Regions from separate parts of the Homo sapiens genome. Here region 2 is linked to region 1. The links come from fine-mapping of genetic effects on gene expression. A gene starts in region 1. The other region holds a variant in brackets. All regions are shown on one strand. Distances are from middle to middle.

Region 1 (14,986 bases):
CCAGCTACTTGGGTGGCTGAGGCAGGAGAATCACCTGAACCCAGGAGCTGGAAGCTGCAGTGAGCCGAGATCATGCCACTGCACTCCAGCCTGGGCGACTGAATGAGACCCTGTCTCAAAACAAACAAACAGAAAAAAATGACAATTCACCAATCAATACTGCCACAGAATTTTTTATTTTGTTTCCCTTTCCTAGTACACAGAATTTTTTAATTCAAAATAATTCCAATGCTTTGGGAGGCCAAGGCGAGAGGACTGCTTGAGCCCAGAAGTTCAAGACCAGCCTGGGGAATAAAGCAAGATCTCATCTCTACAAAAAAATTAAAAATTCCTCAGGCGTGGTGGTGCACATCTGTGGTCCTAACTGCTTGGGAGGCTGAGGTGGGAGGATCACTTGAGCCCACGAGGCTGAGGCTGCAGTAAGGCATGACTGTGCCACTGCACTCAGCCTGGGCAGTAGAGCAAGACACCATCTCAAAAAAAAAATTTAAGCAAAAACATATGTGGCAACAGAAAAATACCAGAAACTGCACTAAAAGCCTTTGCTACCGCAAGAATGAAACCAAAGTGCATGGGTGTGTGCACGCATACACACACACACACAAATACTACCACTTATTGAGCAGCTATGATATGTCTGTAAAAAATTTGTAATCTCTTACTTAATACCAATTCTTTAATGTAGGTGTCATTACTTCCACTTCAGAGATGTGGAAACTGAAACTCCAGAGGTTCAAAAACTTGTTTATAAGCTGCTCAGCTTAGCTGCAAACTCTGATCTTACTCCAAAGACCATCATTAGTCCAATGCAAGGATAAGCAACATCTTTATTTCCGAATGCCACCAGCCAGGGTACACAATTAACATCTCTCCCTGGCAGCCACTGATGCGAAGAACACCCCATTGCTTTCCACTCTTCCCTGGCTTACATTGTTCAGTCACACTGGGTGTTAAATTACTCAACATGCCAAGCTTATCCCCACCTCAGGCCTCCTACACTTGTGTTCCTTCTGCCTGAATTGCTTTCCTAGATCTTCCCATGGATGGTTCCTCATTATCCAAGTCTCACATGTCCCCTACTTGCCCACTTTATCAAATACTCCCATCCTCCTTCCTTCCCCAACATATTCTCTACCATGTTACTCTATTTTCCACACAGTGCTATCATTTCCTGAAATCTTATTTATGCTATTATTTAGTGTCTGTCTTCCCCACCATCATATAATGGATCCTTAGAACAATGATCTCACCTATCTTTCTTATTTATTTTTTAGAGACAGTCTCACTCTGTTGCCCAAGCTGGTGTGCAGTGACACAATCACCATAACCTCAAACTGCTGAGCTCAAGTGATCTTCCCACCTTAGCCTCCTGAGTGGATAGGAAGGACTACAGGTGTGTGCCATCATGCCTGGCTAAATTTTTTTTTATTTTTTTATTTTTGGTAGAGATGAAGTCTCACTATGTTGGTCTTTTGCTCCTGGGCTCAAGTGATCCTAGCTCCCACCTCAGCCTCCCAAAGTGCTGGGATTACAGGCATGAGCCACTGCGCCGGCCTTAGCCTATTTTACATACTGCTGCATTGCCATGGCTAAACAAATAAGAAACTGCTCCATAAATACAGCCTACTAAGTTCAAAGCAAAATGCCACTAGCAATGGATGAGACCATCTTTAAGCCTTGCAGCAGGGGCTGGATGTGGAAGGAATTAGAAAAGTCTTCATGGAAAAAAAGTTTATATTGAGGCCTCTTGACAGCCTCTGGGGAAGGGAACTAGGTGATTCTGCGATAAGGATAGGAGAGAAACCTAAATTTTGAACCATGTGAATATACTGCCTATTCCAAAAATATTTTAAAATAAAAAATGACAATCTGAGTTTGACTACAAGTCTGTCTCACAAATGACAAGAAAAAAACAAGAGAAAGGAACTACTGAGAAAGACAAATAGAAATACTAGTTTTTCTGACTTACCAGGTTATCTGAAAATAATAATAATCATACTGCCAATAACAGTAATAATAGTTAACACCTATTGGAAGCATTTACTATACGTCCAGACACTGTTATTTTTTTCCTTCATCCCATGACAGCTTATTTACTCTTTATTTAAATCCCAGGAAAGCCTATGAGATGCATGATATCCCCATTTAGATAGAGAAACTGAGGCATAGTTATAGAGTTTATATAACTATTAAGTGCCAGAGCCACAACTCTTAACCAGGTAGTCTGTCCCCAGAGTCCAAGTACTCGGGTAAAGACAAGTCAACCTGTAATCTCAGCTACTCAGGAGGCTGAGGCACGAGAATCGCTTGAATCTGGGAGGCAGAGGTTGCAGTGAGATCTTGCCACTGCACTCCAGCCTGGGCGACAAAGCGATACACTCTCGCAAAAAAAAAAAAAAGACAAATCTACATTCACTCAGGAACCATTATATACTAAGCAGAAATGATAGATTCTAGTCTCAACTTTGCTACTAACCAGACAGAGAACCTTAGCCACTTGGTCATTTACCATCTTTAGGTTTGTCTCTTTCTAAAAGAGGGCATGGAATACCTCCAAAATTCAACAAACTGTAATGCTAATTAATATCCAGTCTGGGGAATAAGACATGCAGATACAAGCCACGTGGAACACGTAAAAAACCAGCTGGTCAGTTTGTGTGGATGTGTTTGAATTTTTTCAATAGAAAAAATTTTACTGTTGGTGGCAAAGCACTTTAATCCACTAAACTTTAAAGATAATTTTATTACAGAGACTTCTGTTTGCTATGGAATTTGTTGTAGCCAAATTTTACCCACATTTATTGCAATTGTGAAATGATAAAATCATTCGTTTATGCAGAATCCTCCTAAATTCACGCAACCTTGTCAGAAACATTACATACCTAGATTTAAAAATGTTTAGCTTGGCTGAGCACAGTAGCTCACATCTGTAATCCCAGCAATTTGGGAGGCTGAGGTGGGAAGATCGCTTCAAGCCAGGAATTCGACAGTAGCCTGGCCAACAAACCGAGACTTCCATCTCAAAATAATTGATTTTTTTTTAGTGGTTACCATTTCCCAATTTATTTGGGGATAAACCCTACCTTTTTTGTAATTTAAGAATAATAATGTAACTTTTTCCTTATGACACTGATCCATGATTTGAACTACAAAAAACTCGTATAAAGAGAAAAGAAGTGCTGTCATCTTTAAAGTATGATGCCAAATGTCCTGAAATCCAACTAGCGATTTATAAATGATATTATCATTAATGTTTCAGATTCCCAGGGCAAAAAAAAATTAAAAATAAAAATAAATAAATTACTTCTCCAATTCCATGCTGTGTAAAATAAAAGGGCATGAGAAGTAAAATAAAAAAATACAAAGCCCAATGAAGCAACCTGCCACGTGCTTTAATTATTCGTATTTTTAATGTTCTCACATTTGTATCTTATTATTGGTTCAAAACTAAGCACCACATAATATTTAAAATTTTTATCCCATCTACTATGTATCCTAATCTGAAGACTAAGTGTGAAGTTTCTATCGTCTTGAAACAGAACAGCTACTATGAATTATCTGCCGCTGTTCATACTTAAAATTACTCTAAAATTAGTATTTTATTTATAGTAAAGTTAAGCAACAACTAACAGCCATATAGCCAACCCAGCTTTCAATAAATTCACCTTTAAACCTAAATGCATGTTTAGCAAATAAAAGCTTTTTTTCAGGTGAAAAGATAAACTAGAAAAGACAGTTACCTACTAACAATATTAGTTTAAAACCTAGGGTAGCCAGAGGATACTGAGGAAAGCAAAGGAATGCTGCCTCTTCTCCTTGGAAGAACAGAACCTGGAAAGCTACCAGGGACGCTGGCACACAGCCCACAGAAAACTGCCCACCCGGCTCCGCAGCGGTCATCACTACGGGGCCATTATTCAGGCTTCTGCTCCGCGATAAAGTAAAAATGCTCCCCTCAAATGCAAAACCAGCCAGTCCACGCGGCTTTAATTACTCAAGCAAGGCCTGTGCGACTAAAAAGCAAACAGCTGTTTTGAAGTTGGTGACAACTCAGAAACGCACTTCAAGTCAAATATTCACTTCCAAAGAGGTAAATAAGGTACATTACAAACAGGCAAACTTTTTCCCAAAGGGAGGTGGTGCCAGGCCTGGCTTCCTAAAGTTGCCGGTTTTATTTCCTCGTAACCAGGAAAAATTCCACCATCGCATCGATCCCGCTTTAATAGGTATGCGGGTGTGCTGTGCAATCTAACTAAACGCAAAGCAGAGAATGCAGAACGCAAAACACCTAGCCGAGGAGAGACTGGCAAAATAAACCACCGGGGGAGGATCCCTGAGGGGCTGCTGCGAGCCCGGCGCGGCAGAGAGCACGGCAGCCACTACCGGCCGAGGCGGCTGTGCCCGGGCACTGCGGAGAGCGGCGTGAAGTTTCTGGAAAGAGCGCGGCGGGGGTGAGGCGAGCCGCAGAAGACCGCGGAAAGGAAGCGCACGGAGGAGCGGCTCGGCAGCCCCCGTGGGCCGGCCGGAGCGGGAAAGTGGGGTCCCGCGACCTCCGAGGTAAACAAAGAGCGGTGGGCAGCGGAGGCCAAGCCTGGCCCGCGCCGGCCGCCGCCAGACCGCTTGCCCTTAAGGCCCGAGGACCCGGGGACCGGGGGGCGGCAGCGCGGCCTACGGCCACTCACCAAGATGCGTTTGAAGAGGTTGCTCTCCTTGGGCGGCAGCAGCACGTTCGGCATCGTGGCCGGCAGGGAGGCTAGGTGGCCGGCAGGGAGGCTAGGTGCCCGGGCGCTCCGCTTCGCGGGGGTGGGCACCGGGACGAACCGCTGCTGAGAGTCGGGCTGCGGGCGATGGATTAGTTCATTGGTCTACAGTTGCAATTGGGCAGCCTGGCTGTTCGGCACGGGTGGCAATGGAGAAGGAAGGCGGTCTGAGCAGGACACGCTTCCCCTGGGCTCCGCTTTTTGGCCAGCGGCGGCGGCGGCGGTTCCCGCGCACTGCAAGATGGCAGCCAGGGTCCGCCTCCCGAGCCGGATCCTGTGCGCATGCGCGGAGCGCCCTTTGGCGAGGGGCTGCGGGTGACTACGGGGGCGTAGCGGGGACCAACCGCGTGGATTTGCCTTGTGCTGCGGCTCTCCTCGCCGCAATCTCGGCACCCCCTGGGGCTCAGGCGAGCTGTCACCAAAACCTTGGAGTCCCATGGGGTGGTGAGTCACCACCCTCATTCACCATTGCTCCTATGCATCAGAACGCCTCATAAGACTCCTACTTATTGTCTGCTTCTCCTTGCAATAAAGTAATAAATAAAAACGAGAATTTTCTTTTAAGTAGAAAAGAGAAGACACTGACTTGTATTGCACTCTTGATAAGCTTGTGGCGCAAGATAATGTTAGTTATGACTCTGAAGAGTCAGAGTTTTTTGCATTTCTCCCCATTTAGGAATTTAAGTGTCCGATGCAAAGTAGACTTTTGATGAAAGATGAACTTGTTTTCTTTCCTTTTCCTCCTTGATTCAGACTCTAAGTAGAAGCCTTCTCTTTCCAGGGCAAACCAAACAAACATTTACAATCTTTGTTTTTGTTTGGTTGGTTGGTTTTGAGATGGAGTATCGCTCTTGTCGCCCAGGCTGCAGTGCAGTGGCGCTATCTGGGCTCACTGCAACCTCCGCCTCCTGAGTTCAAAGGATTCTCCTGCCTCAGCCTCCCGAGTGGCTGGGATTACAGGCATGCGCCACCACACCCGGCTAATTTTGTATTTTTAGTAGAGACAGGCTTTCACCATGTTGGCCAGGATGGTCTTGATCTCTTGACCTCGTGATCCGCCCCCGCGTCAACCTCCGAAAGTGCTGGGATTACAGGCGTGAGCCACCACACCTGGCCGGAATTACGGTTTTATAAGGCCACTGGTCTTCTGAGTCTACCTACCCTTTCTCTTCAGATGGTTCCCCTTCCTGAAAGCCATATAATAATGGGAGAAACAGGCTTCAAATTCAGGATCTTCCAACTCTGGGATACTCTCTACAACAAATAAAAGGCAGCATATTGATGGTAATGTGTGAGTCTAGAAAGATACAACAGTGGCAAGAATAAACCATACATTCAGTGTAGGGTTAGTAGTAAGGTGTGTGTAAACATTAGGTACATAAGTTTATTTATACATGTGCTGAATCTTAATGGGTGCATATTTCTGAGACTATAAAGTAATTGATGAGTAACTGCATTTAGTCGGCTGTAATCAGAACTGGGCTGCCCTTTTTTATTTTCCTTTTTTTGAGACGATGTTTTGTTCTTGTTGCCGAGGCTGGAATGCAATGGCGCTATCTCAGCTCCCTGTAACCTCCGCCTCCCAGGTTCAAGCGATTCTCCTGCCTCAGCCTCCCAAGTAGCAGGGATGACAGGCATGCACCACCACACCTGGCTAATTTAGTATTTTTAGTAGAGACGGGGTTTCTCCATGTTGGTCAGGCTGGTCTCAAACTCCCGACCTCAGGTGATCTGCCCACCTCGGCCTTCCAAAGTGCTGGGATTACAGGTGTGAGCCACAGTGCCTGCCTATTTGATTTTCCTTCTTTCTAGCCTAAGTTGGTTGGACATGAAAGAATCATAGGAGTCTTTTTTTTTCTTTCAATCTCCTACGTTTCACACATGATTTTAAAGCATCATAGGAGTCCTTTAAAATAGGGAAAGTACTGTCATTAAAATTGGGGGTCCACAGCAATCCCATTGCTGGGTATATACCCAAAAGAATATAAATTGTTCTACCGTAAAGACACATGCACAGCCAGGTGCAGTGACTCACGCCTGTAATCCCAGCACTTTGGGCGGCTGAGGCAGGCGGATCACCCTGAGCTCAGGAGTTGGAGACCAGCCGGGGCAACATGGCAAACACACACACACACACACACACACACACACACACACACACACTAGCTGGGCATAGTGGCGAGTGCCTGTAGTCCCAGCTACTTGGGATGCTGAGGTGCGAGGATCAATTGAGCCTGGGAGACAGGTTGCAGTGAGCCAAGATCATGCCACTGCACTCCAGCCTGGGCAACAAACTGCCTCAAAAAAAAAAAGGACACATGCACGTGTATGTTCATCGCAGCACTATTCACAATAAAAAGACATGGAAGTAACCTAGATGCCCATCGGTGGACTGGATAAAGAAAATGTGGTACACCATGGAATACTACACAGCCACAAAAAAGAATGAGACCATGTCCTTTGCAGCAACACAGGTAGAGCTGGAGGCCATTATCCAAAATGAATTAATGCAGGAACAGAAAATCAAATACCACATGTTTTCACTTACAGGTGGAATTATAAACACTGAGTACCCATGGACACAAATAAGGGAACAGTAGACACTGAGGCCTACTTGAGGGTGGAGAGTAGGAGGAGGGTGAAGATTAAAAAACTACCTATAGGGTATTATGCTGATTACCTGGGTGACAAGACTGTCTGTACACCAAACCCCCACAACATGCAATTTACCTGTGTAATAAACCTGAACATTTACCCCTTGAGTCTAAAATAAAAAATGGAAAGAAAAAAATAAAAGTGGGGGTTCAAGGGCCTATGTGTACTCTGCAGAGCTCCCAAGCTGCCCAAGCTGTTAGGAAGTAGGCAAGTATAGATGCTTTAGGAGCTTGCCTTAGTCGCACCTGTACTAGTGGCAGTCCCCCACCCGGAGAACTGAGCAAGCACACAGAAGTGCCTCCTCTCAGCACCCTCATACTCAACCACTGCCATAATTGCTAGCCACAGTTTGCTTACCACGGCATTACTAATTCCTGAAAACCTTTGGCTCCCAATTTATCTACATTGTCATTTATCTACATCATCAGAAGTGAAGGGTTACTCACGAAAAGAGCCAAACCTTCAGTGCGTCAGTCAAGCCCTCACTTGACCCTCATAGGACATGGACTTTTCTAGACCTATTTCAAAATGACAAATTAGATTTTTAAAAGAAATATACAAGAGAAGGGAAGAAAAGCATAGTACCAACTGTAAATATTTTGAAGACAAGGAACGATTATCTTTTATGAAAGTTTCCTGTGGGCCTCTTCCAGCCTTATTTACTACAAATCATTAACTATCTTCACTCTCTGTGGTAGCAGCTAAATCATCACCCTCATTCACCATTGCTCTCCCCAACCCCTAAATCAGCAGCCCAGGAAGGTTCTTCACGTGCACTCTGCAGCCTCCGACCCACTGCCAACTTCCACTTCCCAGGACACACAGTTCCGTGCCAGCATCTCCCAGGGAAGCGCAGTCACGCAAAGAAAATCTGCAATCCCAAATACTAGAAAGCAGCACTAGTTTGCTACTAGTTATAAACTATAGTTATATATAGTTATAAATACTCATATTTAATATCTTCTTCATCTGTCTTTCACACACCATACACACATACCTTTTGTATTAGTCTGTTCTCACATTGCTATAAAAAATTACCTGAGACTGGGTAATTTATAAAGAAAAGAAGTTTAATTGGCTCACAGTTCCACAGGCTATACAGGAAGCATGGCTGGGGAGGCCTCAGGAAACTTACAATCATGGTGGAAGGCAAACGGGAAGCAGGCACATCCTACATGGCTGGAGCAGGAGGAATAGAGTGAAAGAGGAGGTGCTACACACTTTTTTTTTTTTTGAGATGGAGCCTCATCTGCCACCCAGGCTGGAGTGCACTGGCATGATCTCAGTCACTGCAACCTCCTGGGTTCAAGCAATCCTCCTGCCTCAGCCTCCTGAGTAGCTGGGACCACAGGCATGCACCGCCATGCCCAGCTAATTTTTGTATTTTTAGTAGAGATGGGGTTTCACCATGTTGGCCAGGCTGGTTTTGAACTCTTGACCTTGTGATCCACCCGCCTCAGCCTCCCAAAGTGCTGGGATTACAGGCATGAGCCACAATGCCCAGCGGTGCTACACACTTTTAAACAACTAGATCGTGAGAACTCACTCACTATCATGAGAACAGCAAGGGGAAAATCTGTCCCCATGATCCAGTCACCTCCTACCAGGCCCCTCCTCCAACACTGGGGGTTACGATTCAAGATGAGATTGGGGTGGGGGGGGCACAAATCCAAACCATATCACCTTGGTTGTCTACACTAGTGTGGGGGTGAGGGGAGAGGGAGGGAATAGAAAAGAACACCAATCACGGTGCTGGTAGTTGTCATCCTGAACCTTATGTGTATAAAAGATGTAATGTATGCACAATCAGAAAGCCTAGATTAACCAGTAACTATAATCTTATTACTGACTTCCTGTTTAGTCTGGAACAGATCTTATTTCTACCTTTCAACAGAAAATGGGGTTATAATAACATGATAATGTGTTTCACAGCAGGGTTATGTGAATTTAATGCTTAGTCATTTCAAAGCCTGTGATAAAAAACAAATACTGTGTAAATCTGAACTCACTGTTTCTCAGGAAAAATGCTGAAGTCCTTTTGGGGCCATCATGGACATCCACCCAGATGCTCCTTCCTGGCACTTCAGACGGTGCATACCTCCTTTAGAATCATGCATAAAGTAAAATAACAGTAACCACATCTGTAAAGACCTTTGCAATTCCCAAAGCCCTTTTTACATATGTAATATGGGCCACTGATTCTTCTCGTTCAGCCTAGTAAAGACAAGGAGAGAAGAATCTGGAAAAGGATTTTCTCCACCCCATATACGTGCATGTCTTCCAGAGCCAGCTGGCAACCTAAAATCAAATAGTTTGCTGCTATTCCCACAGCCAATTTAACTATGTAATTAAAAGCTGATGGGAAAATAACTTATCAGGTTATACAACGTGTTCCACCCCAGACTCCCTGATGTTTCTGCTCTCTTCCATGTTCTTGGCTCTTCTTTCTTTCCTTTTTTTTTTTTTGAGACGGAGTCTCACTCCGTGTCCCAGGCTGGAGTGCAGTGGCGCGATCTCGGCTCATTGCAAGCTCCGCCTCCCGGGTTCACGCCGTTCTCCTGTCTCAGCCTCCGGAGTAGCTGGGACTACAGGCGCCCGCCACCACGCCCGGCTAATTTTTTTTGTATTTTTAGTAGAGACGGGGTTTCACCGTGTTAGCCAGGATGGTCTCGATCTCCTGACCTCGTAATCTGCCCACCTCGGCCTCCCAAAGTGCTGGGATTACAGGCGTGAGCCACCGCGCCCAGCCGGCTCTTTTTTCCGAGAAAGAAAGGTACTCTTATTCCTCCCTTTGAGTTCTTCATCTCATCCCTTTTTGCTTTTCCTCAAATTTTATTCATCAGTTACTCTCCTCCCAGTTTGCATGTTCTCTCTCTTTACATAGTTTATATCCTAGTGGGAGGAGACAGATTATAAACACATAAACAAATAGATAAGGTAATTCCAAACTGTATGAAGTCCTATGAGGGACTTAAAGCAAGTCCTATGAGGGACACAAAGCAAGGTCATTTGAGAGCAATGGGGGCTGAGGGAAGGACTACTTTAAACCAAGTACACAGGAATGAGAACCCTTTGGGGAGGTGATAATGACAATTGAACAGAAACCTGAGGATGAGAAGCAAGTTTGGCTGGGAGATCCTGGTGGGGGACCACATGTCGTGGGATGGCATATTCTAAACAAAGGGAACCACAGGCAAATGCCCTAATGCAGGAAGAAGATTGGTATGACGAAGGAATAGAAGGGAAAGGTGAGAACTTGTCTCTCCTCTCTGGTTAAAGGACGTGGCTGGAGTGTAGCGCAGGAGAAGTAAAGTGGTATGCAGTACAGTTGAAAATATAGACCAGGCTGTGCAGAGTTCACGGTCTCAGGCAGTGTGGGTTTTTTTGTTTGTCTGTTTGTTTGTTTAATCTTAAATTCAATGGGAATCCACTGAAACATTTTCAGAAGGCAAGTTACATGATCTGATGATTTAATTTTTTAAAAGTCATTCTGGCCAGGCACAATGGCTAACACCCATAATCCCAACTCTTTGGGAGGCCAAGGCAGGAGGATCACTTGAGCTTGGGAGTTCAAAACCAACCTGGACAACATAGTGAGACCCCGTCTCTACAAAAAATTTTAAAAATTAGCCAGACATAGTGGCATATGCCTGTAGTCCCAGCTACCTAAGAGGCTGAGGTGGGATAATAGCTTGAGCCTGGGAGGTCGACGCTGCAGTGAGCCATTATCACACAACTGCATTAAATCACTCTGACTACATGGGGAAAACAGATGAGAAATAGCTGGATATTTTTTAGGAAAGTGGCAACTCTATTGAATACTTAAGATTTGGCTTCTGTGCCCAACAGTTTTCTGAAAGTGTTTTCTGAAATATCACCAGTTCATTTGTTCTGCGTTGTGAAACCTGAAAAAGCCAGTCCTTCAAGATAAATCCTTAGTGTCTAACTGGGCCTGAATTGAAAATAGAGCCAATGGGCCATTTGCTGATTAGAGATCACACATGTACTCTGAGTTCCTTACAGGCTTTTCCTTAACTTTGCAACTTTCATAGCTGCCTGTTCCTGTTTAGGCACCTGAACCAACCAATAAGCTGTAACCTATGTCAACCAATCAAAACTCAGCAAACATCAGGCAATCAGATCTAAGCAAGTTTGCATCCTTCATCTACATAAATGGAGGAGCATGGGAACCTGGGTAGGTACTTTCTATATAAAAACAATCCCTCCCTTTGTTCTCTGGCATGTACCTTCCTTTTGTACCAAAGGCTGTGTCTCCCCTATTTGCAAACTGTTCATTGGAATAGTTTCTTTCTTCTAAATTCCTTTTCAGAGAATTTTTGTTCACAGTATTTATTGTTGAGTACCTACGATGTTATAGGCAGTCTTCTAACAGTCAAAAATATCTGCTCTCAGCGGAAGCCCAGGCACACGTCTGTAGTTCCAGCTACTTGTGAGGCTGAGACAAGAGCATCACTTGAGCCTAGGGATTTGAGGCTGCAGTGCACTGTGATTGTGCCTGTGAATAGCCACTGCCCTCCAATCTGGGCAATAAGTAAGATCCTGCCTCTGAAAAAACATCTGCCCTCATGGAGCTTGTATTTTGAAGAATTGGCCAATTCCAAAAAGTTTCTCAGTCCACAAGGTCCTTAATCTCTCATTGGCATTTCACACAGTAGACCACCCTCTCCTTCATGAATTTCTCTTTCTTTTCTTATGTTACCAGAAAGAGCTCCTGATCCAGACCCCAAGAGAGGGTTCTTGGATCTCACCGAAGAAAGAATTTGGGGCAAGTCCACAGTGCAAAGCAAAAGCAAATTTATTAAGGAAGTAAAGTGGTGAAGGAATAGCTACTCTATAGACAGAGTAGGGCGTTCCTGAAAGTAAGAGGAGGAACGCGCCTACCCCTAGGTACAATGCTTATTTATATATAGGATAACAAAAAAATGGGGAGATTTGCTCTACTACAAAGGTTTGTGATTTAAACAATTAGTTTTCTTAATTACTATATTTTGCAAGGATCGATATTTATCTTTAAAGCAAAATTAGGAGTGCTTTTGTTTTTAAGACATCAGGATATCAGGACATTCCTGAGTCTGGGTCTGTTAGTAAACGTTATTAATCTGTTCCGTTAACCTAGAGGCTAGGAATACTTACCCTCCTGGGAATGCAGCCCAGCAAGTCCCAGCCTCAGTTTTCTTAGCCCTCACTCAAGATGGAGTAGCTCTGGTTCAAATGGCTCTGACACTTGCATCGCCAAGACCCTGCAGAATTCTGGGTTTTCTCCTGTACCTCTTCTTGGTCATCCTTTGGGTCCTCAATCAAGTCTTCATTCTTCTCCTAAATGTAGATTATCTAGATAATTCTGTTTTCTTTTTAAACAACAACAATAAAACATGTTCATTGAACACCTGCTATGTGCAAGACCAGCACGTACAGAATACACTAGCAATACAAAATTAATAAATTCTCTTGCTCCCATAGCATCATTATTAACACCAAGTAGATTATTTCAAATCTCTCTCCAGTTTCAAGTCCCCTTTGGATCTCCTGGCCTTCATTCTCATTGTTTAATATCTCCATCTGGATGTCTTATAAGCATTTCCTACTTTAACAGTTGAAATAAAATGTATTATCTTCCATCAAAGTAGTCCAAAAAAATAGAGAAAACTACTTATCTGTTTTTGTTATTGACACCACTCTTGCAGTTAGCATCAAATATATATACATATAAAATAAAAATAAATCAAAAATAAATAAATAAATAAATAAGAAAGGCTCTTTCTGGAATTTCTTATCTGGAATGTATGTATTCCAGCCTCTTGAGTAGCTAGAATGTATGTATTCCAGCCTCTTGAGTAGCTGGAATTACAGGTTCCACCTACTCAAGGTGCTCTCTTGAATAGCTGGAATTACAGTTTCCGACTACTCAGGTGCCACCACACCCAGCTTGCCTCAAAATTTTATAATCAACTTTGACTGCTCTTTCTTATTCTCAAGTTGCCAAGTGCTTTAGATTCTAGATCTAGGCCAGGCGCAGTGGCTCACGCCTGTAATCCCAAAACTTTGGAGGCCAAAGCAGGAGGAACACTTGAGCCCAGGAGTTTGAGACCAGCATGGGCAACATAAGGAGGCCCCATCTCTACAAAAAGTAGTTTAGCCAGGCGTGGTGGTGCACACCTGTGGTCTCAGCTACTTGGGAGGCTGAAGTGGGAGGATCACTTGAGCCCAGGAGGTCAAGGTTGCAGTGAGCCATGATTGTGTCACTGCACTCCAGCCTGGGTGACAAAGCAAGACCCCATCTCAAAAAAAAAAATTTAAAAAAAAATCCAGATCTAGTGTGTTTCTCCCTTTTCTTCCCTGTATTGGGGCACAGAAATGATTCCCCAAATATAGCCACGCTGAGTGCTTTTGAAAATCCTCAAAAATAAGCCTGAGAACAAAGGTCTCTCTCTCTCTGCCACTTCTCCCACCTTCCTGTCTCTCTGATCCTGTTTCCAGAAGCACCCTAAGAAAGATTCTTGGCCAGGCACGGTGGCTCGCACCTGTAATCCCAGCACTTTGGAAGGCCGAGGCGGGTGGCTCACCTGAGATCAGGAGTTCGAGACCAGCCTGGCTAATATGGTGAAACCCTGTCTCTACTAAAAATACCAAAATTAGCCAGACATGGTGGTGGTGGGTACCTGTAATCCCAGCTACTCGGGAGTCTGAGGCAGGAGAATCGCTTGAACCCAGGAGAGGGAGATTGCAATGAGCCAAGATCGTGCCACTGCACTCCAGCCTAGGCAACAGAGGGAGACTCCATCTCAAAAATAAATAAATAAATAAATAAGAAAGACTCCTTCTGGAATTTCTTATCTGAAGAAGAAAGTTTAAATACAATTGTCTTAAGACTCCCTCCCTAGGAATCTCATCAAATAGCCAGGAAAGATCAACCACCAGAGAAGAGAAGAGACTGGGAGTCATCCCCACACCCAGACAGACTTTTCATCTGTTCATCTGAGAGCAGCACTGAGAGATTTTATCTACATAAAATCTTTATCTACATAATAAGACAGACTTTGTTTCTGTGCAGCTCTGGTCCTTGCCTTTCTTTTTTTTTTTTGAGACGGAGTCTCACTCTGTTGCCCAGGCTGGAGTGCAGTGGTGAGATCTGGGCTCACTGCAACCTCCACCTCCTGGGTTCAAGTGATTCTCTTGCCTCAGCCTCCCAAGTAGCTGGGATTATAGATGCCCACCACCACATCCGGCTAATTCTTGCATTTTTAGTAGAGTCAGGGTTTTACCCTGTTGGCCAGGTGGATCTCAAACTCCTGACTTCAGGTGATCCGTCCACCTCAGCCTCCCGAAGTGCTGACATTACAGGTATGAGCCACCGCACCCAACCTGTCCTTTGCCTTTCTATATCATCTGCCTCCCACCTCCCAAGTCAATACATCTCTCCCCTCTGAAAACAGGTACATAAGCTTCTGTATAATAGTGCGTTGTTGGGTCACCATTCTGCGATTCCCCCAGGCTAGCCACGTGAAAATAAAATTGTGTATGCCTTTTCTCCTATTAATCTGCCTTTTGTC
Region 2 (13,902 bases), 250 kb before region 1:
TTCACAGTACTCCATTTTGGGGTCCAAACTGTAATGCTCAAAATAATAAATGCTTACACGAAAATTATTTATTGAGAATATTCATATAAAAATTACCTAAAGCAAAGTAAAAAAAGTAAAATCAAGGTGGTATATTTGAAGTGAATGGTGATTGGAAATTTTTAGCTGTAACAAAAAGAAAGAAAACAACTTTTTTTAAAGCCTCATTCTCTTTTCTTTCAAAATGTACCTTATTCCCACACACTCTTGGGCTGACCTTTATTTTATCAATAAGCTCAATATTACTTTGTTTAAAATAAGATGCTTCAGCAAAAGTCATTCTCTCTTTAACCATATAATTTAAAAACTCCTCTTCACGATTGATAGCAAAATCAGAAACGTTAGGGCACCAGTGAGTTGAAAAAACTGGTCTTAAGTTGGAAAAACTATTATTAATAATATTATCCTATCCATCCATATCTATTGAAATTGTACAGGTCCATAATTTCATTTTAATTAATTATAGGAAAGAAGAAAAGATAATACCCATTTGTTCTATCACCCCTCTCCCTATCATTAACTATCAAATAAATAAATAAAAGCAATCTGATTTCCAACGTGGTACTACCTGGTGAGTTTGCATGGCTTTCTTGTTCCTCTAGTGAGACACCTGCTCCATGTATTGAACCATTCAATGATGCAAACAATTTCAATCCAACATGTATCTTTAAAAATGTAATTGCATTCCAACGGTCGCCACAACAGCAGCTAGCATTTACTGATGATTTACTGTGAACCAGGTATATGCTAAGTGATTGCATACATTATTTCATTCATCCTTACAACAATGCATGTAACAGGGGTATTTTTTACCTTATTTTGCAGATGATAAAGAAAGTGAGGCTCAGAGAATTTAAGTCACTTTCCCAAGATTCCTGTTACTAGACCTTTCACTAACTATTCATGGTACCATTAACATCCTCATTTTACAAGTAAAGAAACTGAGGCTTAGAGAAGTTCAAGAAAATAGGCCACACTCACAGCCAGGCAGGGGCAAAGCTGGGCCTCCAGCCTCCAGGCCCCTTAATGCCTTTGCGTCCCTCGCAGTCCCACGCCCCTTGCTGCATCTCACAAATGTACATGTCACACTCCTGCTGCCTTTTTCTCTTCCTTCCAGTGTGACTTCTCTTCTTGTACCCTGTCCACATTCACAGGGCTCTCTTCCTCTCCCTTTCCTCAGAAAGTCTATCTATCTGCCCATATTCGAGCACTCAGAGGTGTGGGGACCGAGGACATGGGACACTGTCGGGGGAACACTTCTAACTGCTGCTTCCTTGCTAGGCACAGCAGCAATCTGAGGAAGTGCCCTTCCAAGTGGCAGCTTAACCCCAAGGGATGCCCCTTAGCTAGCGGGTCACTGCCCCTGAAAGCCTTTGGAAGTGGAATCCAAGGGAGATTAAAGGAACAGCCAACCTTTAGCAAATCCTCCCCATGCGTAACTACCTGAGGAGGCAGAAGCCATTTTTTTTGACATGGAAAGAATGTTCTCAAGTAATTTAATTTACCTTTCTCGACCAGCCAGACATCCTCTGCAATTGCTATTTTTAAAAAAGCACAGTACTCCTGGCTTTTCTGATTTGTGAAGGGGAAGGATGATGGGGAAAGGGAATTGAGACTGAGAAGACGAAGAGCTTATTTTCACTTCTTGCAATACCTAAGAAGTATGTGCATTTATTATTAAATGTACTTAATTATAGACCACTCCAAGCTGTTCCCAGGCCCTTCTTAGGGCCAAGACATTATAATAAATGCATTGTGTGCCTCGGGGGGTTCCACTGAAAGGCATCTAACCCCTGTCTCCTTAGTAAGCACATGTAATGCTGAGAAGGTTCATTGTTACCCATGAGCAGCCAGGAGGAATGAATGCCGTGAATAGCTGCAGTATATGATGCATATTCCCCCTAGAATCCTCTGTGTGCCCGACAAAATGACCTCATCACAGATGGGGAGGCTCAGCACAGCCATAAGAAGTGGATCAGAGGGGGAGTACTTGAAGGGAACCCATCAGATGTTTGGAATGAATCACTTAATTCTTTATACTACACTCTTTCCTGTGAACTGTCAGAGGAGAAGAAATCCATCAATGCCAGCAAGATTTTCTCTAAACAAACTCCTGGGCTTTGAAAGCCGTTTGGAAGTGGTTTTCAGTAGACAGCATTGTCATTGTTCCTGAAAGACCAACCTTGGAGGCTTCCAGCCTCCCTCCACCTGGCTCCTTCTTGTGCCTGTCAGATCAGGCAAAATTAAGTTTCTAAGTGAATAAAGCTGGGAGAAACAGACAAGGGGAACAACAGGAATAGTGGCTTATTTGCTGCATTTCGATTTGTTTCCAATGACCACAATTGTAAGATACTCCACAAATTCTAAGCCAGCCTCTCCTGCCTGGACAACTTGTTTCTGGAATTGCATCTAAGGAATAATCAAATGTCGACTTATATTTAATACATCGTACATAGCTTTTTAATCTTATTAAGAAACAAAATGTCCACTTTTATCATTTTTTTCCAACCAGTAACATAAATGGCTTTGAAAAATACTTAAGTCCAATTTCTGGTCAGGATTATATCATAAGGTTCTTTTTCCTTTTTCTTTTTTTTTTTTTTTTTTTGAGATAGGGCCTTGCTCTGTCACTCAGGCTGGAATGCAGTGGCACAATCATAGCTCACTGAAGCCTCAACCTCGTGGGGTCAAGAGATCTTCCTGCCTTAACCTCCTGAGTAGGTGGAACTACTGGTTCATGCCACCATGCCCAGCTAATTTTTTTTTTTTTTTTTTTTGGTAGGGACGGGGTTTCACCATGTTGCTGAGGCTGGTCTCAAACTCCTAGCCTCAAGCAATCCTCCTACCTTGACCTCCCAAAGTGCTGGGATTACAAGTATGAGCCCCTGCACCCAGCCATGAAAACCTATTGCCTTTTCTTTACTCTTGTTCTAAGACTTACTATGGCAAAAGTACTACAGGTAATGGAAAGGAATTCCAATTCTCCAGCTTATCATGGGGAGTAATTGCAAACTTTAGGTAGAATTTGTCTGTGACCCTGCTCAGCTATTAAGTGCCTGTGTAAACTTGGGCTAATCACTTCTGGGTCTCAACTGAATTAAACCTACGATTTAAAGGGATTGGATGTGAAAATCCACTGCTCCATTATCTCAAACAGGAAATTGAGATAATTTACAAGAGCCACACACTTCAGTGCAACTTTTGTCTCCAAAACCCCACACATGCAAAAGATAACCTATCTCCTCAGTACACAGAGGATTTTGGCACCTATATCAACTGCCTTAAAATAATGTTACTGACTGAATATGCATACTAAAATTTATATAAACATCATTAAAATGGAACAAAGGAGGCTTTCCCTCGTCAGCTGAAAGGATTATTTCTGTTTGATAGTTATTTACAAGATTTCTGCCTATTGTCTCATGCTTTGCACTTGGCTGTCTTAAGATAAAATTACATGTCTGCTGATGGGCACATTGAAAATCAAAAAGGATCAGGAATTGGAAAACTACTGCGTGCCAAGAGCTGACCTTTGTTCTGCAGCTGAACAATGAGTAATTGTGTGTGTGTGTGTGTGTGTGTGTGTGTGTGTTTGTGTGTGTAACTGTTAAATCCTGTAAACAAAATTTCCTCCAGAGAGTAAAAAATGCTTGCCAAGCAAACATCTCAAGTTGAGGATGACATGACAACTCTTTTTTGAGACTTAAGCACTGCCTGGGGCTTTTGCCTTCAGAGACCGCATCTGTTCTTGCATGGTGGTGCACGTTGGCTTTGGAATACCAAGACTACATAATTTTAAAATCAAGTGGTGTTTGTGGTATTTGGCCACGCAGAGCAAAGTATAACATTCTTTTAAAGTGGTTTGCATCCTGGGGGTGGGAAGAACGTCATGTTCTGCTGTAAGAAATCTCACCAAGGGGACATGTAAACTCGGAGCGTCAGCTACTTCTCAAGATTCCCCTCTTCTGCAGGTGCCAGAGACTTGGAGTCTTCCCTCTTTTCCAAAGGCTTCAGTGGAAGTACTTTGGGGCTGCTAGCTCCTTCCCTGAAGGAACAACCAGAGTGTGTGAATAAATTCAGACTCCAAAGATGGTGAGTGTGACCACAGAGGAGTTTCAGAATATAAGAATGTATTAATATGAAATGCAGCTCTGAAGCATTAAGTCATGGTAGCTGGGGTTTGACCTGGAAATGGAAGAGAACAGTGTCTCTCTGAACATCCTAAAGCAAGTTTGCTCCTTACGCAGGCCAGAATACGGCAAGAAAATCATGAGCCTGTCAAGAGTACTCTGTGTAATTGGTCTCATGACATCATGGCTGTACATGAAGCCTTACTGATTGAAACTTGAAGAAAAATAAGTATATTTACTCAGAGGGGACATTAAA[G/A]TTGGATTTTTCAAGTGCAATGTGTTTATATTAATAAATACTGCTGCTAATTTAACGAGACTGACCGTTTGTTTACTCCAGCACTAATTAAGTCTTTCATCATCAGGACTCCAGAAATAGAGTGAGTCTCGACAAAGCTAGCTGATCCATTTCCTTTTACAAAAGATTTTATGGCCCATATGAAATTCAGGCCTAAAAATGGCCTAGAAAGGAACACTTGCAGCCCCAACAGAAATCAAATAGCAAAGCTGGGGAAGCAGCCTGATTGACTTGCCTCCTAGGGGTGGCTCCTACAGAGCCTGAGGCTGCTGGGGAATCCAAGGGCCTCTGCAACAAGCGGATGCTCAGATCAAGGGTGTTACACACAAAAGAAGAGCAGATGACAGGGGCTACTGGGGAAGGCCAGGGTTGAGTTAATGGATCCATGGGTTGAATAATAAAATTGTCTATTTGGCAGTTGGCAAAGAGAGAATATTTAACTGAAAAGTTTCCTTCAGGGCTCCAGTGTTGGAACAGCTATTTTCAAGGCTGATAGAATATGCATGTCCATCCATTGCAGGCTCAAGTACAAAGATTTGATATTAAATATGTAGTGCCAGAACTGAAGAATCTCTTTTTGCATGACCTTTCGTGGTGACTGGAAGAAACGGGTATACTCTGCAGAGGTGGAAGATTGTAGCAGCTCCACAAAACCGCATGAAAGCAGATATTCAGTCACTTGGCTGGAATGCAGCTCCACACAGCTGGCCTGGCGCCGTGCCCCGCAGCATCTGAAGTCTATCTGTACAGTGGTGTTTCCCTGCAAAAGGGGCTTCTCTTTTCAACTACAAGTTGCCCTGACGGGCTACCATCATGCACCCCTTGGTCCAAATTCTTTCATTCCCATGCTTTCCTCCTAACCCCCACTGGTAGGAAGGTCCTTAGACAGAGGGCCTGTGATGGGTTGAGGAGATAGAATTGGCTGGGGGCATTTGCAGCTTGGAGCATTACTCAAGCAGAGAACCCAGACCTGGGACACAACGTGAGGGCAGGAGATATGGGAACCTTGGGTGACATTCTTGCCTTGGGCATATATTCTGCTGTCAGGCCTCCTGAGAGCACTCACTGAAGGCGGTGTTGGGTTTGGATGGCAGTGCCTTGGTTCTCCTTAGTCTTGTTTTTGCAGAGACACCCAGTTTTCCATTTGTATTTTTGCCTCCATCTTATAGAAGTGCTCTGCCTTTCTGACCTCTGGGTTATGGAGGCAGGCGCAGCATGCATGTTAGGGAGGTAATTTCCTAGCTGTGATGAAAGGCCTCTGGCCCAGAGGAAGGGCAAGGCCTTTGAAATTGGACATCTACTCCACAGCCTCTGGGCCATTATTTGATGATGTGAACAAATCAGCTTTTTTTTTTTTTTATTTCTAATTTGGGTTGCCAAGAAAACTCTTGCCCTGTACTGTGGGCCTTTAGGAAAACAATTTATACCAAGAGGCCACTACAGTTCTTGGGAGCCACTTCTCTTTCCTTGCAGAAACAGGGCCTGGGTCATGCCCCACTGTTCGGCACGACAAGACATGAGGAAGTTCTTGTGGAAAGCGCACTGGAATTCCTGAGCTCCAGCTGGGTAAGGACTTAAATGAGATCAGTGTGTGCCTGTCAAACTCAAAATCGAAATATATCCCTCCTGTTGAGTGTAAGTATTGAGTACATATCAGTGGAGCCTCCTCCACTAAGAAGTTTTCTAAAGTGCCTGTGATTCAGCCTTTAAGAAGAAGCTGTTGTGTAACAGTTTTTAAAAATCCTTGAGTATTATTTCCTTAGCACTAAAAAGACCAAGTGCCTCTGAAAAAATGAACGTGGCCTTCTAAAAACAAAAAATAAAAACAGCTCTTTTTTCTCTTTAAGATGGTTCTCTTCGGGTACAGTGGCTCATGCCTGTAATCCCAACAATTTGGGAGGCCGAGGCGTGAGGAACACTTGAGCCCAGGAGTTCAAGGCCAGCCTGAGCAACACTGGGAGATCCCATCTCAACGAAAAATTTTTAAAAATTAGCTGGGCATGCTGGCCTGTTCCCTCTCCCCAAACCCAGGGAGAACCCTGACTCAGTTAGGCACTCAGCTCCCAAAAGAACTGGTCCCTTTAGTCAGTTCCTTCTCGGGGGAGTCTTAGAGGCTAAGCCTAGGCAGCCATGTTTTGGCATATGCAAGGAGAATAATTAAAAATATTACTATTATTACATAAAATAATAGCAATAGCTAACTCTTACCTAGCACTTCCCATGCGCCAGGCACTTCCTGAACACTTTACATGGATAAACTCATTATATCCTCACAGCTCCTTCAGACAGGGACTGTTCTTATTCCCATTGTATTTGAAAAGCAAAGAAAACCAGTCTACCCAAAAAGAAAAAAGAAAAAGTCAACTTGCTGACTGAAGGAGAGAGAAGTAAATACGGCACCCTGGAACTCTAAGAATGTGACTATGGGTCCTAACTTTCCAACGTCTGGTTGCGGTTCCTTTGGGGGCTTGGATGGACCCCCTTCCTAGATAGAGACCCATAAGATGCCTTGGTGTCCTCCCAGCCACCCCCTTTTCACTTAAGCTAGCTTGGGAACTATGGCAGAGTCATTTACTGCTCACACATCTCCCATATTTCTCTGGGCCCTTGCAGTTAGGTCAGGACGGTGAGACTGGTTCTGGCCACTGGGCTGTGAGCAGAAGTGATGTGTCAATAGTGGGCTAAAGCCTTTAAGAGCTAGTAGGCAACCCTCCAGCTCTCTTTCACAGAATCGGGGTGACGGAGAAAACTATGTGTTTTAGATGGTGTAGCTCTACCTAAGATAGCAAAGCTTCAATGAACCTGGGATCCTGGGTGTTATGGACTGAATATTTATGTTCCCCCAAAATTCCCGTGTTAAATCCTAAATGCTGCTGTGATGGTATCAGGAGGTGGGGACTTTGGTAGGTGATTAAATCATGAGGTGAAGGCCTCATTAATGGGATTGGTGCATTTAAAAGAAGAGACACAAGAGCTCTGTCCCACTCTCCACCATGTGAGGATATAATGGGAAGATTGCTGTCTGTAAAGCAGGAAGCCAGCTCCTACCAGACACTGGACCTGCTGGCACCTTGATCTTGGACTTCCCAGTCTCCAGAACTGTGAGAAATAAATGCTTGTGGTTTAATCCACCCAGTCACCCACAGTAATATGTTATAGCAGCCCAAGCTGACTAAGACACTGGGTGATGGTATGGATCAGAGACCCCCACCAATTTGCACAGCAGCCTAACAAATATAGGAGGTTAGTTAGGTTTGTTGTTTTTCTCATAACCTAATGCTCCCAGATTGAAATAAAGACCAAGAAATCCAGTAAAATTTGGATTGAAGGAAACAGTTCCTTGCTGCTGGACAGCTATTTCATTACTTGGGTCACCACCATGCAAGGCACTCAGAAAATGAGAGAAGACATTTAAGACCCTTCCCTCTAGGTGTTTTCAATCAACTGGGAAAACAGGATGCATCACCAAAAGAGTGTGGAGAAATAACTCAACAGCATTTGACACCAGCTTCTGTGGTCCTGAGGCAGTAAGAATGGCCCTAGGTGCTCACCACACTCTCTCATCATTCTTTCCATATCGGCCTTCCCTATTGTGGGAGGAACAAGAGCAGGGATCAAGTCTTGTTTATCTTTGGCCTGGCCCTGAAAAGTGGTTAATAAATTTTTGCTGAACAAATAGCTGTGGGATGGGGAGGCACCATGGGCCTGGGAGGCAGAACAAGTTCTGGCTCTGAAAAGCAGGCAAGACCCACATGAGCCAAGAAGAGTCAAGGAGCCCCAAAAGAAAGGGAGGGTAAGTGTAGTTCAAGCAAAAGCCTGGATTTGGAATGTCCCAGGGTAGCTGAGCTGGCAGGCCTCAGAGGACTCTTCTCCTCCTCCTCAGCTACCACCATCCAGCCAAGCAGCTCTAGGCAAGGCCAGACCCTGAAAAGCAGCCTTATCCTCACAGCCACTGTGGTGGCCTCTGGGCTGCCCAGCTGTTGACCCCAACCTTGACTGGCCAGGGATAAGGTGGGAGGTTGGCCGGGCAGCCCAGGCCTGCCTGGAGCCCAGGGTAATGATAGGTCAACAGAGCAGGCCTCATTATGTGGAGCAACTTCGTGATGTGGCTGTTTTGTTTTACTTACATTTTTTTTTTCTTCTTGAAAATGAGCTGAGAACCTTCTTTACCCAAGATTACAAGTTGGGTTGGTGATGAAAGGTCTGTCCTGTGCAGAAGGAGCCCTAAGGCAGGAATTTGCAAGTCCTTTTGTTGAAAATGGCTTGTTCTATGGCCTAAACAAAAACAAGAAAAAAGGGAAATCAACAGGGAGCATCAGAATCATCTCAGCCTTTGTGAGGCTGCCTGGGATTCTCCGGCAGATCATCATGGCTGCCAAACATTCCTACCTGCACACAACCCAATAAGACACCTAGATTAATAAATCCCTAGAAGACTTTAGAGAAAATCACTTGGCCCATGTTCCCCAACCCAGGCAAAACTGTGCTTCAGTCAGTCACTTTGCAAAGAGCCCTGAACAACATGGATTAGTCAAATGGAATGAATGCACAATGGACAGACAGAGGGACGGACGGATGGATGAATGCATGGTTGGATGGATGGATGGATGGATGGACAGATAAATGAGTGGGTGGGTGGTGGGTGTATGGATAGGTCAAAGATGAGAAAGTCTACCCTATTTAAAATATCTTAGGGAAAAGAAATTCCCAGGGCTCCTGTTAGTACCCATGATAATAGGGCAGCAGAGGAGGCATCTCAGCTTTAGCCCAAGCAGGAATTTTGCCATATCTGCTAGAGTGGTAGCTTGGCCACCCCTAATCCATCCACATGAGAGATGAGAAAACAACTGGAAACAATTCCAACTCAACGGAAGAGCAAATCAGACACACAAGCTTGACCCTGTAACAAAATCTTAGTAGTGGCAGGGACAAGGATGGCTGTGTGACATTGAACATGAATTTGTGTCTAGATCAGTCCCTGGTGACAAGCAGATACCCAGGAAGCTGTGCCCAGATAGTGGCACATAGTGACACCCAACAGAAACCATTTTTCTCTGGGTACCTGAGACAGTTCCAAGTGACCACATGCTGCCTAGCAAGCCCCAGAGGTATTGGCGCAGATGACCTTAAGTGCATGGACATTGGATTCAAATCATGACCCCATACTAACTAGTTTTCTGTCCTAAAAAATAAAACATTTTTTTATATTTTGTACTGAAAAATACACATAATAAAACTCACCCTTTTAAAGTGTACAATTCAGCGTTTTGGAGTAGATTCACGAAGTTGTGCAAACATCAGCAGTCCCTAATTCTACACCCCATACTTGCTAGTAGTTACTTTGCATCACTCCTCCTGTCTCCTGGCACCACTAGTTTACTTTCTGTCTCTATGCATTTGCCTGTTCTGAACATTTCACACAAATGGATTTATACATTGTGGGACTTTTTTTTGCTTCCTTCACTTACCATAATGTTTTCAAGGGTCATCCATGTTATATCATGAATCACTATTTCATTTTTTTTTACAACCAAATAATATTCAATTACATCAATATACTCTACGTTTTGTTTATCCATTCATCAGCCAATGGATCTTTTGGTGAATATGAATAATGCTGCTATGAACATTCGTGTTCAAGTTTTCGTGCAGACGTCTGTTTTCAGTTCTCTTGAGTATTTAACTAGGAGTGGAATTCCTGGGTTGTAAGATAACTCTACGTTTAATTTTTTGAGGAATTGCCTGATTGTTTTCCAAAGTAGCTATACCATTTTACATTCCCACCAGCAATAAAAGGGTTCCAATTTTTCCACATCCTTGCCAACACTTATTCTCTGTCTTTTTGACCATCGCTGTCCTAGTGGATGGGAAGTAGTAACTTGTGATTTGAATTTGCATTTTTCTAACGACTAATGATATTGAGCAACTTTTTTTTTTTTTAATGGAATCTTGCTCTGTCACCCAGGCTGGAGTGCAGTGGTATGATCTCGGCTCACTGCAACCTCCCCCTCCCAGGCTCAAGCAATTCTCCTGCCTTATCCTCCTGAGTAGCTGGGATTACAGGCGTGTGCCACCACACCCAGCTAATTTTTGTATTTTTTGTAGAGATGGGGTTTTGCCATGTTGCCCAGGCTGGTCTCAAACTCCTGGACTCAAGCAATCTGCCCACCTCAGCATCCCAAAGTGTAGGGATTACAGGGGTGAGCCACCATGCCCAGCCCAATATTGGGCACTTCTGTATGTGTTTATTGGTCATTTGTATATCTTCTTTGGAGAAATGTCTATTCAAATCCTTTGCCCATTTTTAATTGGTTATTGGTCTATTTATTGTTCAGTTGTAAGAATCCTTTATGTATTCCAAATACTAGACCATTATAAGATATATGATTTGCAAATACTTCCCCCATTTTGTGGGTTGTCTTTTCACTTTCTTGATAGTGTCCTTTGAAGCATAAAAGTTTTTAATTTTGATGAAGTTCAATTTATCTATTTGTTTTTGTTTGCTTGCATTTTTGGTGTCATAGCTAAGAAACCATGGCCTAATCCAAGGTCATGAAGGTTTACATGTATGTTTTTTCTTTTAATAATTTTACAGTTTAGCCATTTAGGTCTTTGATCCATTTTGAGTTAATTTTAGTTTATAGTGTGAAGTAGGGGTCCAACTTCATTCTTTTATATGTGAATATCCAATTTTCCCAGCACTACTTGTTGAAAAGACAATTATTTCCCAATTGAATTGTTTTAGTATCCTTGTCCAAACATAATTGACCCACAAATAAATGTATGGGCTTATTTCTGGACTCTCAATTCTATTCCAGTGATTTATGTGTCTATCCTTATGCCACTACTATACAGTCCTGGTTATTGTAGCTTTGTAGTAAGTTTTGAAATTGGAAAGTATAAGTCCTCAAACTTCGTTCTTCTTCTCCAAGGTTATTTTGGCTGTCATGGGTCCCTAGAACTTCCATATAAACTTTAGGATTTGTTTGTCATTTCTGCAAAAAAGCCAGCTGGGATTTTGGTAAAGATTCCGTTGATCTGTAGATCGATTTGGGGAGTCTTGCCATCTAACAATATTAAGTAACTCAATCCATGAACACAGGATGTCTTTCCATTTATTTAGCTCTTCTTTAATTTCTTTCACCAATGTTTTGGAGTTTTCAGTGTATAAGACTTACACTTCTTTTCAAAATTTATTCCTAAGTATTGTATTCTTTTTAATGCTATTGTATATGAAATTATTTTCTTAATTTCATTTTCAGGTTATTCCTTGCTCATGTAAAAAAATACAATTGACTTTTATGTATCGATCTTATGCCCGGAACTTGTTTATTATTTCTAATGGAGCAAGTTAGAACATCACAATGCTTACTGCTCTTACTAAGATTCAGCCATTTTTCTTAAGTAAATGCTACCCAGATTGCTGTAAGTGTTTACTAAATTTCCAGAGTTTCGGAAAAGTTGAATTCTGACCATTTTTGCCAGGATTCATATTGCCTTTATGGAGAAGAGTGTTTTTTGAGGTCCTTATTCCACCATTTTCACTGACATCACCCAGCTTAAGGAAGTTTTCTATGCCTCCATTTCCCCAACTGCACAATGAATTTCTTATCTTTCCATAATTTTTTGGAGATGATTAACCAGGTAATGTGGTAAAGTACCTGACATTACCTGGCACTAATAGGTACACAGGCAACTTGTTGTCACCAGACACAGGAAGGAGCTGGTGATGGATGTTCAGTAGCTGCCTGGCCGTGTTTGTGAGCACACAGCCGTGCAATCCTCGCAAGACTGAGTTTGTACCCAAACAGCCTCCTGGCTGGGCCCCAGCCTGGGTTATAGTCAGTTCCTCAGACTCAAAACCTACCTTTCCCTCCCTGTCTCCCACAGTGCACCACCTCAGTGTCCGCTCCCTACCCCGAACGTGTTACCACTCCTGGAGGGGCTGAATGCAATTATGCTCACAAGGCCAAGTGAGGTCCACAAAGCCCAAAGGCAACAAAAGCCATCTCAGGCCTCAGCCAGGTTGGGGGAGGCAGAAAAATCCATCCCTTTAAACCACACCAGCTCCACTCACCTCCAGAGGTCAGCCCTGGTTAGTAGGACCTTCATGAGTGGTTCTGAGAAACTAAACCTGGAGGCTATGTGGTCTGTGGTATCAAACTGAGAGAGCAATTGAGTCATGCAGTTAACCTGGACGCCCATGCAGTGCCTTCTCCTGGCTGCACAGGGCTCCCAAGCACATCAGCTCAGCCTCAGTAGCTCTGAGGGGGGTTCATGAGCTGGGCGCGCACAGCTCCATCCAGATGCTCCACTCACACCCACACTCCCACCGCTGGCCTGAGCTCCTGACCAACTTGACAGCTGTTTATCCCCTTTTCTGGAAAAGCCTCTCGCTCCACCCCTACATGCTCACCCTCAGTCTTTTAAGGTCTGGTTCACATGACCTCCCAAAAGACCCACCCTGGAATCTTCTTTGCAACTGCTTTTCCTCATACATGTACTCATGCATTCAGCAAATATTTGCTGAGCACTTGCTGTGTTTCAGACACTATCCTGGGTGCTGGAGGCACCACAGTGAACTTGCTCTTAGGGAACACACATTCTAGGGGAAAGAGCCTGCAAGTAAACAAGTAAATGTATAATATGTGGGTGGTGACAGATTCTGAGAATGAAAGGAAAAAGGTGGCTCATACCTGTAATCTCAGCACTTTGGGAGGCTGAGTTGAGAGGATCACTTGAGCCCAGGAGATTGAGACCAGCCCAGGTAAGACAGTGAGACCCCGACTCTACAAAAAAATACAAAAATTAGGCAAGTGTGGTGGTGCATGCCTGTAGTCCCAGCTACTTGGGAGGCTGAGGTGGAAGGATTGCTTGAGCCCAGGAGGTCAGGGCTGCAGTGAGCTGTGATCAGGCTACTGCACTCCAGCCTGGGCAACAGAGTGAGACCTTGCCTCCAAAAAAAATTAAAAAAAAAAAAAAAGCGTTAGAATTCGGTTAGGGGACACTATTTTAAGTAAGGTACACAGGGAGGCCTCTCTGATAAGATAATAACTGAAGACAAACCTGAAGGAAGGAAGGCAGTGAGCTGTGCAAATATCAAGAAGGGTGTTCTACTCAGAGGGAACAGCAAGTGCAAAGGCCTTGCAGTGGGACCGTGGGAATCTTAGAGAACAGCAAGGAGGCTGGGGTGGCCAGATTGGCATAAATGAGGAGGAGAGCAGCAGAAAATGAGCCCAGGAGACAGCAGGCACCAGACCTGGCCAGTCTTAGAGATTACAGTAAAAATTTGGGATGTCCCACGATGTAAGTTTAGAATCCAGTGAAGGTTCTGAACAGAAGGGTGACATACTCCGAATTGCATTTTGAAAGGACTGCTCTGGGTGCCACGATGAGAATAGACTGTGACGGGCCAGGGATGGACTCAGAGGGACCAGT

Direction of the effects. Positions count from the first base shown, and alleles are read on the strand shown. Sizes are in standard deviations (SD) of each study's normalised expression.
For the expression in breast of the gene that starts at base 4,998 in region 1, allele G in region 2 goes with a lower level than allele A (moderate effect, 0.48 SD a copy in GTEx).

Evidence for each region.
Region 2: its variant is fine-mapped to the expression of NAA16 in breast (GTEx, PIP 0.94).

The regions. Positions count from the first base shown.
Region 1 is chr13:41,301,279-41,316,264 of GRCh38, reverse strand. NAA16 (N-alpha-acetyltransferase 16, NatA auxiliary subunit) reads right to left here and starts at 4,998. Exons shown (of 20, transcript NM_024561.5): 1 at 4,683-4,998. The coding sequence starts at 4,736. It overlaps LOC105370173 (a long non-coding RNA gene), which reads right to left. Exons shown (of 3, transcript XR_001749846.2): 3 at 12,214-12,752. It also overlaps a transcript of MTRF1 not described here.
Region 2 is chr13:41,553,529-41,567,430 of GRCh38, reverse strand. It overlaps VWA8 (von Willebrand factor A domain containing 8), which reads left to right. Exons shown (of 45, transcript NM_015058.2): 45 at 1-596. It overlaps LOC105370174 (a long non-coding RNA gene), which reads right to left. Exons shown (of 3, transcript XR_941901.2): 2 at 8,592-8,739; 3 at 3,340-4,084. Among named protein-coding and RNA genes, the nearest start is that of MIR5006, 7.9 kb to the left of the region's middle. RefSeq lists a silencer at 13,379-13,570. The variant G/A (reference allele first, on the strand shown) is at 4,426.